2 linked regions of the Homo sapiens genome follow. The protein of the gene in region 2 purifies or fractionates together with the protein of the main gene of each other region. This does not show direct contact. Each region holds a gene or a part of one and is shown on either strand. Other genes may lie near its edges.

Region 1 (7,142 bases), on a different chromosome or scaffold from region 2:
CAGCAGGACAGATCCTAGAGCCAATGGCTGCGGATACAACCGTCTCCCCGCCCAGACGCCACACACTCTCGGGGAACGTTCCCTGAAAGCCCCCACCCCTCCCTCCCTCCCACGCTCCCCTCACCCAACACACTCAGAGGAGTCAGTGCTTGGCAAAAATAATTTAATATTCCATCTGGGCAGCGCTCTGAGGTCTGCTTGTCCCTCCCTGGCCCCTGTGCCCTACCTGACCCACTCAGGGACCACCACCCTGTCCCTACCCAGGCCTCGGGGTGGGGGAGTCAGAGGCCCCCAGACCCTGTGTCCCATTCCTAGTGAAGCTGAAGCCACCATAACGTCAGCCTCTTCCCAGAGCCCCAGCTCTGCCCCTGGCTTCCCTCGCGATCCTCCCCTGGCTCCCCTCGCGATCCTCCCTTGGCTTCCCTCGCGATCCTCCCCTGGCTTCCCTCGCGATCCTCCCCTGGCTTCCCTCGCGATCCTCCCCTGGCTTCCCTCGCGATCCTCCCCTGGCTTCCCTCGCAATCCTCCCCTGTCCTGAGCCGGGCATCCCAGAGCCTCCCGCAGAGTCCCACCCCAAGCCTGGAAACTTCCACGCTACAGCCCTGCGCCAGGCCCCGAGGAGCAGTCAGGGGACTCAGGGAGTCACAGCACAACGGCAGCTCCTCGGTCCCAGACGGAGGAGGGGGACAGCAACCATGCGCCCAGCAAGACACAAGCGATGACACCGATTTACACACACCCGGTTTAGACGCCAAAGCTCTGCGGGGGAGGAGCGGCCCTCAAGAGTCCTCCGGGAGCTCCGGGTGAGGGTGGGGCCCTAGGAGGGGGCCCCGCGCAGCTGCTCCAGGCCGTCCGCGTACTGGAAGGCCCGCCCGGTCTCGTGCTCATACATGTCCAGAGCCACCTCGCAGCTCTCACGCACCACGCGCTCTGGGTCGTCCGCGTGAGCCTGCAGCGCGGCCAGGCAGGCGGGCCGGGCAATGGCGCCCAGGGCCTCCGCGCACTCGTGCCGCACCATGGGGTTCTCGGTGCATCGGGCCAGGGCGGCCGCCAGCTGGGGCACCGCCGCCTCGTGCTGCAGCTGTCCCAGGACGTAGCCGACCTCGTGGCGGAAGAGGGCGCTCCCACAGTGCAGACCTGCAGGGGAGAGGGACACTCGCTGGGGCCAGGAGGGGTGGGAAGGGGAGCTCTGTCTTTTCGAAGACATGGGGTCTTGCTATCTTGCCCAGGCAGGTCACAAAGTCCTGGCGATCTTCCCATCCCGGCCTCCCAAAGTGCTGGGACGACAGGCGTGAGCCACCACGCCCAACCTGGGGTGTTCTACCTTGAAGACACCCCTGCCCCCAGCCCCAGTGATTAGGGATGCCCGGGGGAACTGACCGCAGCTATGGGGGCGGGAAAAGCTGGGAGCTATGGGGACCAAGAGGGACGCTTGCACGGGTTCTTAAGAGGCCCCATGGGAAATGCTTGGGGCCAGGCCCGGGATGCCGTTCCCGGGGGCAGGCCGCGGCCCCACTGCACAGATGCCATCACTGAACCTCACAGCGAGGCACTGCCCAGGACCCCACCCCAGAAGCCCCTCCTCACCCTCGGCCAGCGCCAGGGCGGCCTCCTCGCCTCCCGCGTTGCGCAGGGCGAACATGGCGCGGTATCGCTCGAAGAGCGGCCGGGACTCATCCAGCAGCGCCTCCCGCAGGCGCCCCACGTCACGCTCCTCAGCCGGCGGGGCAGGGTCCACGGAGAGGTAGGGTCCCGCCGCCGGCTCCCCGCCGTGCTGCTGCAGCCACTCCAGCCTGCGCACGGCCAGCTGGCAGGTCTCGGCCACCTGCGGGGAGGGGGTATCAGGCAGCGGGTTGGCCCTGGGGGGTCGCAGGGGCCCTTCCCCACCCCCCGGGATGGCAGCTTAGCAGGGGAGAGAGACACTGGCAGGGTGACTAACCCATCATTCCAGGCAGGAAGTAAGCCAGCAGGGGTGGCTGACTTGTGAGTGACCGGGGGACTGGAGGGCTGGGGAGGGCCTCAGGGAGGAGGTGATGTGGAGGCAGAGACCTAAGCCAGCTTAGGGAGGGAATCAGGTGGAGACCCGGGGATGGGGAAGCAGCGGTGGAAAGGCCCTGAGGCAGGACCCTGCGGGAGGGGTGAGGGCCAAAGGAACATGTGCGGCCCCACCTGACCAGGTAAGGCCTGCGGGCCACTGTAAGGGCTTGGGATTTTGTCCTAAAGGTGATGAGATATCGTGAGAGCTTTAAGCATGGAACAGAACAGCAGAATTGAGTGTCACACGTACCCCCGGCTGCCCCGGAGGAGGAGAGACTGAGGGTCGGGGTGGGATGTGGACAAGAAGTGGCAGGGGAGAAAGGAACATGCATGTCCGTGGCGGCATAACTCATAACAGCTAAAAAGCAGAGACAATTCAAGCATCCAGCCACAGTGAGTGGACACAGCATGGGCCGTCCACACCACGGAACGTGACTCAGCCACAAAAAGGAATGACGGGCCGGCCGAAGCGGCTCATGCCCCTAATCCCAGCAGTTAGGGAGACCAAGGCAGGAGGATCGCTTGAGCCCAGGAGTTCAACACCAGCCTGGGCGACAGAGCGGGACTTCATCTCTATAAAGAAAAAACTAATAAAATAAAAATTTGTTTCATTTTTGGGCCAGGCGCGGTGGCTCACGCCTGTAATCCCAGCACTTTGGAGGCCAAGGCGGGTGGATCACGAGGTCAGGAGATCGAGACCATCCTGGCTAACATGGTGAAACCCCGTCTCTACTAAAAATACGAAAAGATTTGCTGAGCGTGGTGGCAGGCGCCTGTAGTCCCAGCTACTCTGGAGGCTGAGGCAGGAGAATAGCATGAACCTGGGAAGCAGAGCTTGCAGTGAGCCGAGATCGCGCCCACTGCACTCCAGCCTGGGCGACAGAGCGAGACACCGTCTCAAAAAAAAAAAAGAAGAAATGTTGGAAGGTAGCAGGAGATCTCTGAAGAGGTCTGGTGGGCCAGGACAAGGTATCAGAGGTAGAGGGCACTGGGTGGGTTCAGAGGGGTCTTGGCAGAGGGACTGGACGTGGGGGTTCAGAGAAAGGGGGTCAGGCCGGCTCAGGGGCTCAAGGCCCGGGATGGAAGCGGGTGAGCAAAGCTGGTTGTCGCCGTTTTGCCAAATGGGGCGCAGCAAGTGTCTGTCCAGATTGTCGCCCTCGCCTTCCTCATCCCTGGGGCATCCTTGGCCAAGTGGTCGCCCTGGCAACCAGAGATGGGGAGGGTCTGAGGCTGCTCCAGGTCAGGGCTGGGGCAGGGCTGGGCAGGGCTTCCCAGGGACCCGAGACTGGCAGGGAGACAAGCAGGGGCCTGGTTACCTCGATGACGGGGTCCGAGGAATACTGCTTCAGGATCTCCAGAACTTCCGGGTCCCCGATGGCCCCCAGGGCCTCCCCTGGGAAGAAGCAGCCGGAGAGCTCATGTTGGTGGGGTGGATGTGTGGAAAATGCCCGGCTACCTCTGGGACCGGAGGACACCCCTCCCAGGGCTCTGCCACTGTGGGGAAGCCCCGCCTCTGTCCACGGCTGATTGGAGCAGCAGTCGGTACAGGCTCCCCGCTGGACCAATCAGCATCCCCTCCCCAGAGCAAGGCACTGCCTGGAACCGCACCTGGCTGCCGCTCAGAGCAAAATGGACCCCATCCCGGCCCGTACCATGAGACAGGGAGACAAGTATATCCCTACAACTCGGGATCACAGCTGACAAGCAGCTCCAAGAACCCAGGAGGTCGGGGGTGCAGTGAGCTATGATCACACCACTGTACTCCAGCATGGGCGACAGAGTGAGACCCTGTCTCAAAAAAACAAACAAAAAAAATTCCCAAAACAGGCCGGGCCTGCCGGCTGGAGACTCCAGAATTTGGGGCCACTGGGGCTACACTTAGGTGGGTTCGGGTACAGGCGCAAGTGCAGGCGTCGCAAGCCCAGGTCGGAGCAAGGCTGGCGGCGGCTCCCCGTAGAGCCCTGGGTGCAGATGTTCCTTGAATTTTCTCAGAATCGAGCTCAAGGGCCCTGCCTGTGAGGCAGCTGAGCTGGTGGCTTTTGCCTTTCCTGAAGGTTGCGGTTTGCGTTTGTGCACCTGCCTGGCAGGCTCCCTCTGCCGGGAAAAGTCCCGTATGCGCCAACACAGGCTCTGTGTCAGGCACCTCCCACGCGCTAATTGCAAATGAGCTCACTGGTTACAGAAACACAGTCCCAGTGGCACAGACGCACCAACTACCTGCCTCACTGGTCTCCTTCGCTGTCTAGGTCCCTCGCTACAACAGTCCATTTTTTTTTTTTTTTTAGAGCTTCGCTCTTGTGACCCAGGCTAGAGTACAATGGCGCGATCTCCACTCACTGAAAACTCCGCCTCCTGGGTTCAAGTGATTCTCCTGCCTCAGCCTCCCAAAGTAGCTGGGATTACAGGCGCCGGCCACCACGCCCAGCTACTTTTTTTTGTATTTTTAGTTGAGACGGGGTTTCACCATGTTGGCCAGGCTAGTCTTGAACTCCTGACCTCAGGTGATCCACCCGCCTCAGCCTCCCAAAGTGCTGGGATTACAGGCGTGAGCCAATGCACCCGACCTGAACAGTCCATTTTTTTGAGACAGGGTCTCACTCTGTTGCCCAAGCTGGAGTGCAGTGGCATGATCATGGCTAACTGCAGCCTCAACCTCCCTGGCTCAAGTAATCCTCCTGCCTCAGCCTCCTGAGTAGTTGGGACCACACGCGTGAGCCACGATGCCCGGCTTGTATCTGTATTGTCACTGTTTTGTCTCTTACTACATGACAGAGCCTGGCATACAGTAGGTGCTCACTAAATGTGTGTCCAATGAGTGGAGTAAATCTAATATACATTAGGGATTGGGGATCTATGGCTTGTCGCTTGTTTTTATACGAGCAAAGAATGGTTTTTAAAACACTTTTAAGGGTTTAAGGCGGGGTGCGATGGCTCATGCCTGTAATCCCAGCACTTTGGGAGGCCGAGGCAGGTGGATCACTTGAGGCCAGGAGTTCAAGGCCAGCCTGGCCAACATGGCAAAACCCATCTCTACTAAAAATACAAAAATTACCCAGGCGTGGTGGCACACACCTGTAACGCTATCTACTTGGGAGGCTAAGGCAGGAGAATCACTTGAACCCGGGAGGCAGAGGTTGCAGTGAGCCAAGACGGCACCACAGTACCCCAGCCTGGGCGACAGAGTGAGACTCTGACTCAAAACAAACAAATAAATGGTTTAAAACAAAAAATCAAAGGGATAGTACTTCCTGATGGGTGGAATTTATATGAAATTCAAATCTCAGCATTTACAAATGAAGTTTGTTTTTTGTTTTTTCACAGACAGGATCTCACTCTGTTGCCCAGGCTGGAGTGCGGTGGCACGATCATGGCTCACTGCAACCTTGACTTCCCGGGCTCCAGCGATTCTCCCGCCTCAGCCTCCCAAGTGGCTGCGACTACAGGTGCATGCCACCATGCCTGGCTAATTTTTGTATTTTTTCTAGAGACAGGGTTTTGCCATGTTGCCCAGGATGGTCTTGAACTCCTGAGTTCAAACGATCCACCTTCCTGGGCCTCCCAAAGTGCTAAGATTACAGGCCTGAGCCACCGCCCCCTGCCCAGTTGAGGTTGTCTGGGCACACAGCCTTAGCCATTTGGTGACAGATGACCTGCGCTGGCTTTATTGAGTCGCTGTCTGGCTGCAGAGCTGCAGGTATTTACTATCTGGTGCTCTATGGGGCAGTTGACCACTCTGATATTTATCACCTGAGTGAGGAAGGGGACACGTGGGGTCATGAAGAAGTGAGGCAGGAGGGAGCAGGTGCCCGGGACACAGACAGGTGCTCACCTGCCTCATGGCGCACCATGGGCTCCTGACGGGTGTCTTGCAGCACGTCCACCAGCATGGGGATGGCGCGGGCATCCTGCATCTGGCCCAGGCAGTAGGCCAGCTCGTGCTTGAGCAGGGCGGAATCGTCATCGAAGGCCTGGCTGATCCATGCAATGGCGCCTGGGCCGCCGAGCCCACGCAGCGTGAACAGCGCCCGGAAGCGGGCCTGCAGGGGCTGCTTGGGGTCCACCAGCGTCTGCCCGATGGCATCCACCTCCTGCTCCGTCACCATCGTGCTGTCAATGGGTCCCGGCCTTCCACAACCCTGCTCAGGCTAAACCTGGGGACGCGGGGATGTAAGAACCTGTGGCAGAAAAATGAGAGCCCAGGTTAGAAGCCCCCTTCACCAGTGCGTTGTCTGTTCCTAGGACCTGGGTGGGGCAAATTCCTACCCACTGACCAACCTGAGCATCTACGCTGAAAGCTCAGCTCCAACCTCCCTACTAGCTGTGCAGCCTTCCGTAAGTTGCTTTCCCTCTCTGGGCCTCAGTCTCTGCACTGCCTCTCGCCTATAGGCCTATCAGAAATGACCTCCACTGTCTGCTCTCCACACAGCAGCCAGAGGGACAGCTGACCCCCAAAATGGCCCTAGCGATCCCCACCCAATATTCAAGGCTTTATATAGCGATCCCCACCCAATATTCAAGGCTTTATATAGTCCTCTCCCACTCTGAACAGGGCTGACCCATGTGAATGCCAAGAAGATGGAACAGAGCAAGACTTCCAAGGTTAGGGCATAAAAAGCACAACAGTCTCATCCTTGTTCTCTCTCTAGGGGAAGCCAGTGACCATGTTGTGAGGATGCTCAAGCAGTCTTTTGTAGGGGCCCACGTGGCAAAAAACTGAGCCCTCCCACCAACAGCCATGTGAGAGAAGTGGGCTGGCAGCAGCTCGTCCAGCCCCAAGCGAACCTTCAGATGATGCAGCCCCAGAGCGTCTCCACTGAGGCCTTACCAGAGGCCAGACCCAGAGCCAGCCAGCTAAGCCAGGCCCAGAGCAACTGTGTGCGACACTGTTTACTGTTGTTGAAGGTAACCAAGTATGTTTTTTTGTTTGTTTTTGAGACAGGATCTTGTTCTGTCGCCAGGCTGGAGTACGGCAGCATGATCACGGCTCACTGTAGCCTCGAACTCCCAGTCTCAAGTGATCCTCCTGCCTCAGACTTCCTAGTGGCTGTGTCTACAGGCACACACCAGCATGCCCAGCTAATTTTTTTTTTATTATTTGTAGAGAT
Region 2 (7,821 bases):
TAATAATTTTCTGGAATTCCTATGAGTTACAATGCCAACCAGTAGCAATTAAGATACACATTACAGAGTACTAAGAAACTAGAGCAGTATGTAGTAGGTACTTAAATAGAATACTGGAAAGAATGTAGCCTAATTTTAATTGTGCTTTAGATGGGCAAAAGCTAAAATGTTGTAGGAAAGACGACTAACTACTACCTCACTATTTCTTGTGCTTTAGAAATTTCCTTTGTATTTCTCTTAAAGTATCTTGCTTCTTCCCCAAATTGGTTTGCCGAGGCTAAGACAATATTTAAAAGTGTGTACAAATTAAGCAACTAAAACTTGGGATCTTCTGTTACTAATGCTATTTCCAGTCACTGATTAGATCAGTTACATCATCATATATGATATACTTTCCTTTAGAAGATAGGAACAAAGGGCTTTTTAGAGGTCAAGGCATGATGGGAGAGGTCTAAGAGCCAGTCTTAGAGAATTAAGGTATTTCTGAGATAGTGATTTTGTTCTATGTTTTGCTCCAATATGATGATTGTCACTGAGTCAAAGGTCCTCACAAACCCTGTAATAATGTCTAAAATTCTGGAAATAATATACATATGACTCAAAAGATGAAATAGAAATGCAGTGGTGTCACCTAAAATACCTTTTAAAATAATTCAGTTTATAGAATTATTTGCTAGTTATAGTTCACACCAGCAACTGAATTAAGTCACACAACAATCAGAAAAAATGCATATACTTAAAATAACTTAACTTAAATAATAATATTCATATAAAGTAATGCTGCTTCCATGATTCACTTTAATTCACTTTAGGAAAAAAAGGACATAAAATTAACAAAAATTCCAAATCAATTTAAGGAATTCTCAGTTTTTGTTTAATAAATACATTAATGTCAAAAAATCTACTTAGAAATGGTTGGAAAGGGGCTGGGTGTGGTGGCTCATGCCTGTAATCCCAGCACTTTGGGAGGCTGAGGCAGGTGGATCACCTGAGGTCAGGAGTTCAAGACCAGCCTAGACAACATGGTGAAACCCCATCTCTACTAAAATACACAAAAAAGTAGCTGGGCGTGGTGGCATGCACCTGTAGTCCCAGCTACTTGGGAGGCTGAGGCAGGAGAATTGCTTGAACTCGGGAGGCAGAGGTTGCAGTGAGCCGAGATTGCACCACTGCACTCCAGCCTGGCTGATGGAGTGAGACTCAGTCTCAAAAAAAAAAAAAAAAAAAAGGAAGTTGGAAAGGAGTATTTACTGATAAATATTACTATTTATTCAACATAGTTGGAAAACAAGCATTGCATAGTATCATGTAAAGCAGATCACTCCCTTTAAACGTTGGGGGCAAAGTTAAAAGCAAAAACAACTGAGAAACAACTTTTCATTTTTATGCTGACTTACAAAGTCCTCACATAAAAACTTATAGATTTAATCAACCCTCTTTGCCACTGTCTTTTGTGTCTTCCTTATAATCTTACTTGCTAACTAACTTTCACCCAACAGTTCAGTGCCCTTCTGCCAACCATAAGAAGGGACTAAAACCACCATATAAGGTTACATCAAGTTTGCCAACAATTTGGTAAATAGTATGACCAAAGTAATCACATGGTTGCATGTGGCCACCAAAATAACTGACAGTTTTTGATAACATGATTTTTGTTTAAGGATTTGTGTTTGCCCTACACAGGCTGAAAGTGCAACAATTCCAATATATAATCAGTTCATTTTATATTAAATCTGTAATTAATGCAGAGCAGTTCAACTTAAATATGGTACTTCAATACCACTTTATGCTACATTGTTTGATTTAAAACCCTGGTTTATCATCTAACTAAAACACAGGAATGATTTGCTCAGACAAATCACATCTGCTGAAGCTATCTTGTTTGTTTCTTGGACTGACATACTGAAAACCACAGGAATATTATAGGAAACATATCTACAAAATTCAAAAAAAATTATACATATTGATAATTTTTTAAAAATTATCAATTGCTTGCAAAACTAACCCAGCACAATCTGAAAACAATTAAAAAAAGAAATGAGGTTGCTTATGAAGGCTATAGCTTTGGTGACAACTTAGAACCAAATTAGATCTGCAGTTGATTCAGACATAAACAGTGTTCATGCCTGATGTTTCCGTTTATTTGCAGGGTTTTATGGCTACAGCATATTCTTCACTCATTGCACACATGACAGACACCTAGAAGGAAAAAAGCAGGCAAAACGTTATTCAGAAGACAATACATATAGAAGATATAATTAGTTCCTCATATATTGTATATTTGTGGATATTTTGTACATATGGACTTCTGAAAGGGGTATTCCAAAACAAGCTACTTTCTTTACAGTTTTCTAAAGCAGAATTTCTCAGAGTGGTTTGTAAGACAACTTCCAGGGAACAGGAAAAATAACTATAAATGTTTGAACACTTACTACCCGTTACATTTCTGAAAGTTGTAACGAAGACAGTAAATCTCCTTCACTCTTTAACATTCCACTAGCATCATTTCTTACCTGTAAGAATAGCTCAGGGCTGGGCGCCTTGCTCAGGCCTGTAATCCCAGCACTTTTGGGAGGCCAAGGTTGGGGGATCACCTGAGGTCAGGAGTTCAAAACCAGCTTGGCCAACATGCTGAAACCCAATCTTTACTAAAAATACAAAAATTAGCCAGATGTGGTGGCACGCGCCTGCAATCCCAGCTACTCAGGAGGCTGAGGGGAGAATCGCTTGAACCTGGGACGCGGAGGTTGCAATGAGCCGAGATCACGCCACTGCACTCCAGCCTGGGTGACAGAGGGAGACTCCGTCTCAAAAAAAAAAAAAAAGTCAGGTGCAGAGCTTCAAAACAAATTTGGGTTTGAGAGTAATGCTGATGTAGCAAAAATGAACTTTGATACTTTCTTTGATAATGAGTCTCTAAGGGTTTTATGGAAAACCTGCCTGAGAGATCATTTTCAACATTTTAGCAGTATTTTTAAACCACATTCCATATGTAGTATTTTATGTTAACTAGTTGAGGTCAAAGTTTTTATAAAATGGTTTTCAAAAATAATCCTTCTCTAAGTCTTTACCTGTACATCTTCACCTGCATTGTATTTTCCCTCTATTTCTTTGCCTAGTTCACCTTCTGGCAGTTTAAGATCCTCACGAACTTCACCAGTTTCTGTCAGCAGGGAAAGGTAACCATCTTGAATGCATATCAGCTATTAGAAGAAATTATATCATTTGTGCTGATTAGATTATATCCACTTCTGTGTAATGCTTACATAGTTAAATTGCAATTGATATTAATTCATATAAGTATACAGTAATATATTAATATTCTTGGTATTTAAAATGCTAAAAATATAAAAAATATAAAATATGTACAGAATGGAAATATAAGTTTACTCCTCCCGGTACTTCCCATACCCAATCTCTGCCTTGTTAAACAGTTTAGGTTTCTTTATAGTGTATTCCATTTATGTTCACAAAATAAATATAGTTGCTGTTTTGTTTTTTTTTTTAATCAAAATGGGATATTGGGCCAAGTGCGGTGGCTCACGCCTGTAATCCCAGCACTTTGGGAGGCCGAGGCGGGCGGATCATGAGGTCAGGAGATTGAGACCATCCTGGCTAACACGGTGAAACCCCATCTCTACTAAAAATACAAAAAATTAGCCAGGTGTGGTGGCAGACACCTGTAGTCCCATCTACTTGGGAGGCTGAGGCAGGAGAATGGCGTGAACCCAGGAGGTGGAGCTTGCGGTGAGCCAAGATCGTGCCCCTGCACTCCAGCCTGGGCGACAGAGCGAGACTCTGTCTCAAAAAAAAAAAAAAAAAAAAAAGAGATATTATAAGTACTTTACAGTGAGCTGTTTTGACTTAATAATATGTCTTATAAATACTTTCTAAGCAGAAAATGTAAACCTACCTTAGTTAACTACCACATATCTGCATGGACATACTATTACTGATTTAACCAATTTCACATTACTGGGCATAAAAGTTATTTTTGCTATTACAAACAATGCATTTTCTAATTTGAGTATGAACAAAATTAAGTGGAAAACTTTTGGTCTTCAGTCAACAACAACAACAACAACAAAATCCACTAGTGTATGGATAACATTAGTGAAAAAAAAAAACCCAGTTGTCAACCCAACCTGCAAAAAAGCACGGTTTTGATACCACTGAACTTCTTTTACTACAGGAATGAGTAAACAACCAACCTCCACTCATTTATTCTATTAATAAAAGCATGTACACTATTAGTATGCCTCGAATCCTAACATGTTTTATAAAAGGCTACCATCCAGAATACCAGCTACTAATATCTACAAAAGGAGTCAAAGACAATGGTCCTTGAACCCCTGTAACCACTATGATATAACCCAGGCATATCGTTGGGATTGCTCTCCTCCACATACACCATCTACCAAAACTGCCTATGGCTCTCCACAGAAACTCCATCTATCACAGGAAATTTGAGTTTTTATATGTCTAGAAATCTCAAAAATAAGAAATCCTACAGAGCTACAACAAAGACTTTTAACTAACCTCTTAGACCCTCAAATATTTGTGAGGTGGCTGGTAGAGAAGTGGGAGCAAGGAGGTTGAGGTAGAAGTGTAACTTTTTAAAAAATATATATATTTTTAAAGATGGGCGTCTCATTATATTGCCTAGGCTGGCCTCGAACTCCTGGGGTCAAGTGAGCCTCTGCTTTAGCCTTCCAAGGAGCTGGGACTATAGGTGTGCACCAATGCACCTAGCTTGAAGTGTAATTTTTAAACAACCACAACATTCCAAGACAAATCTTTCTGATTTCTGTTCTTTTAGTAATTCCCTAAAGCACAGCTTGTCTATTTCAAGAGTTAAATGTTCGTACTGTGCCACTAGTGACTGAAACACAGAAGCCAAATAATAATACTGATATTTTGAAAATGATGTATGTAATGGAGCTATTTTATTTTTTAAGAGTTAAGAATCATAAACTGTGGAATGAAATATATAAAGCATTTCAGATGTACAAATATATAAAACATCTAGTAAAACAATGCATTTACAAACATTAAACATTAAGATAAATTGCTATATTAAATACAATTAGTTTTCAAAAATAAAACTAAGCTACGAAAAACAAAAATAATGAGAATGAATTATTTAATCTTTGATATGGTTTGGCTCTGTGTCCCCACCCAAATCTCATCTTGAATTGTAATCCCCACATGTCGAGGGAGGGAGCTGGTGGGACGCAATTGGATCATGGGGTCAGTCTCCGCAATGCTGTTGTCATGATAGTGAGTGAGTTCTCTTCAAAGTGTTTAGCAGTTCCCCCCTCACTTGCTGTATCTCCTGCTGCCATGTAAGATGTGCCTTGCTTCCCCTTCGCCTTCTGCCGTGGTTCCTGAGGCCTCCATAGCCATGTGGAACTGTGACTCAATTAAATTTCTTTTCTTTATAAATTACCCAGTCTCAGGTAGTTCTTTATAGCAGTGTGAAAAAGGACTAATACAGAAAATTGGTACCAGGAGTTTGGGCCACTGCTATAAAGATGCCTGAAAATAAGGAAACAACTTTGGAACTGGGTAACAGGCAGAGACTGCAACAGTTTAGAGGGCTCAGAAGAAAGAAAGATGAGGGAGAATTTGAAACTTCCTAGAGACTTGTTGAATGGATTTGAACAAAATGCTGACAATGATATGGACAGTGAAGTCCAGGCTGAGGTGGTTTCAGATGGAGATGAGGAACTCACTGGGAACTGGAACAAAGGTCACTCCTGCCGTGCTTTAGCAAAGAGACTGGCAGCATTTTGCCCTGCCCTAGAGATCTGTGGAACTATGAACTTGAGAGAGATGATTTAGGTTACCTGGCATAAGAAATTTCTAAGCAGCAAAGTGTGCAAGAGGTAACCTGGCTTTTTTTGAAAGTGTACAGTCATATGCATTCATGAAGAGATGATCTGAAACTGGAGCTCATGTTTAAAAGGGAAGCATAGCATAGAAGTTTGAAAAATGTACATCCTGACCATGTAGTAGAAAAGAAAAACCCATTTTCTGGGAAGAAATTCAAGCCAGCTGCAGAAATTTGCATAAGTTACAAGGAGCTGAATATTAATAGCCAAGACAATGGGGAAAATGTCTCCAGGGCATTCCAGATATCTTCATGGCATCCCCTCCCAACACAGGTCCAGAGGCCTAGGAGGGAAAAATGGTTTCATGGGCCAGGCCCAGAGCCCTGCTGCTCTGTATAGCCTCGGGACTTGGTGCCCTGTGTCCCAGCCACTCCAGCTCCAGCTGTGGCTAAAAGGGGTCAAGGTACAGCTTGGGCTGTTGCTTCAGAGAGTGTAAGCCCTAATCCTTGGTGGCTTCCATGTGGTGTTGGGCCTGCAGGTACACAGAAGGCAAGAGTTGAGGTTTGGGAGCCTCCGCCTAGATTTCAGAGGATGTATGAAATGCCTGGAGGTCCAAGCAGAAGTCTGCTGCAGGGGCAGAGCCCTCATGGAGAACCTCTGCTAGGGCAGTGTGGAAGGGAAATGTCAGGTTAGATCCCCCACACAGAGTCCCCACTGGGACACTGCCTAGTGGAGCTGTGAGAAGGGGGGTCACCATCTTCTAGATTCCAGAATGGTGTACCATGTGCCTGGAAAAGCCACAGGCACTCAATACCAACCAGTGAAAGCAGCTGCAGAGGCTGTACCCTGTAGAGCCACAGGGGTGGAGCTGCCCAAGACCTTGGGAGCCTACCTTTTGGATCAGTGTGCCCTGGATGTAAGACATGGAGGCAAAGGAGATTATTTTGGAGCTTTAAGACTGAATGGCTACCCTGCTAGGTTTCGGACTTGTATGGGACCTGTAGCTCCTTTGTTTTGGCCAATTTCTCCCATTTGAAATAACAGTATTTACCCAATGCCTGTATCCTCATTGTTTCTAGGAAGTAACTGACTTGCTTTTCATTTTACAGGCTCATAGGCGGAAGGGACTTCCCTTGTTTCAGATGAGACTTTGGACTTGGACTTTTGGGTTAATGCTGGAATGAGTTAAGACTTTCAGGGACTGTTGAGAAGGCATGATTGTGTTTTGAAAGTGAGAACATGAGATTTGGAAGGGGCCAGGGACAGAATAATATGATTTGGCTCTGTGTCCTCACCCAAATCTCATCTTGAATTATAATCCCCACATGTCAAGGGAGGAACCTGGTAGGAGGTGATTGGATCATGGGGGCAGTTTCCCTCATGCTGTTCTCATGATAGTAAGTGAGTTCTCATGAGATCTGATGGCTTAAAAGTGTTTGACAGATCCCCCCTGCTTGCTGTCTCTCCTGCTGCCATATAAAACATGCCTTGCTTCCCTTTCACCTTCCTCCATGATTGTAAGTTTCCTGAGGCCTCCCCAGCCATGTGGAACTGTGAATCAGTTAAATCTCTTTTCTTATAAGTTACTCAGTTTCAGGTAGTTCTTTATAGCAGTGTGAAAATGGACTAATACAATCTTTTAAATTGAATTATTTATTAAAAAATCTTAAGTTCTATAGAAAAGTTGCAATAATGCAATGAAATCCCATATCCTTTACCTAGATACATCCATTGTTCACATTTAATCACATGTGCACTATTTTCTCTATGTATACATCCAATATATATATATATCATATATATTCTTATTATTTTTACAGAACTATTGAGAGTAAGTTCCAAAGATCATGATTCTTCAGCAATAAATACTTCAGTGCAACAGCCATGACTTTTCAGCAATTAAAACTTCAGTGTATTTTTCTCAAGAACAAGGATATACTCTTAGATAACAACAATTTATTTTTCAAAATCAGGGAATTTAATATTG

What was found. Proteins that work in one complex are often made in the same cells at the same time.
Region 1: the proteins of EIF5A2 (region 2) and DOHH purify together in Homo sapiens (affinity purification with mass spectrometry; 3 studies listed by BioGRID and IntAct, with this or other methods). This does not show direct contact.

What each region holds. Positions count from the first base shown.
Region 1 is NC_000019.10:3,490,675-3,497,816, forward strand, and holds the end of DOHH (deoxyhypusine hydroxylase), read right to left. Parts: intron 6,940-7,142; exon of another isoform or gene 6,684-6,939; intron 6,370-6,683; exon of another isoform or gene 6,213-6,369; 5' UTR 6,141-6,212; coding exon 5,867-6,140; intron 5,732-5,866; exon of another isoform or gene 5,557-5,731; intron 5,481-5,556; exon of another isoform or gene 5,441-5,480; intron 3,431-5,440; coding exon 3,354-3,430; intron 3,238-3,353; coding exon of another isoform or gene 3,097-3,237; exon of another isoform or gene 1,841-3,096; intron 1,826-1,840; coding exon 1,588-1,825; intron 1,138-1,587; coding exon 818-1,137; 3' UTR 150-817; downstream 1-149. UniProt on the Homo sapiens protein: Catalyzes the hydroxylation of the N(6)-(4-aminobutyl)-L-lysine intermediate produced by deoxyhypusine synthase/DHPS on a critical lysine of the eukaryotic translation initiation factor 5A/eIF-5A.
Region 2 is NC_000003.12:170,891,221-170,899,041, forward strand, and holds part of EIF5A2 (eukaryotic translation initiation factor 5A-2), read right to left. Parts: intron 3,204-7,821; coding exon 3,072-3,203; intron 2,200-3,071; coding exon 2,140-2,199; 3' UTR 1-2,139. UniProt on the Homo sapiens protein: Translation factor that promotes translation elongation and termination, particularly upon ribosome stalling at specific amino acid sequence contexts.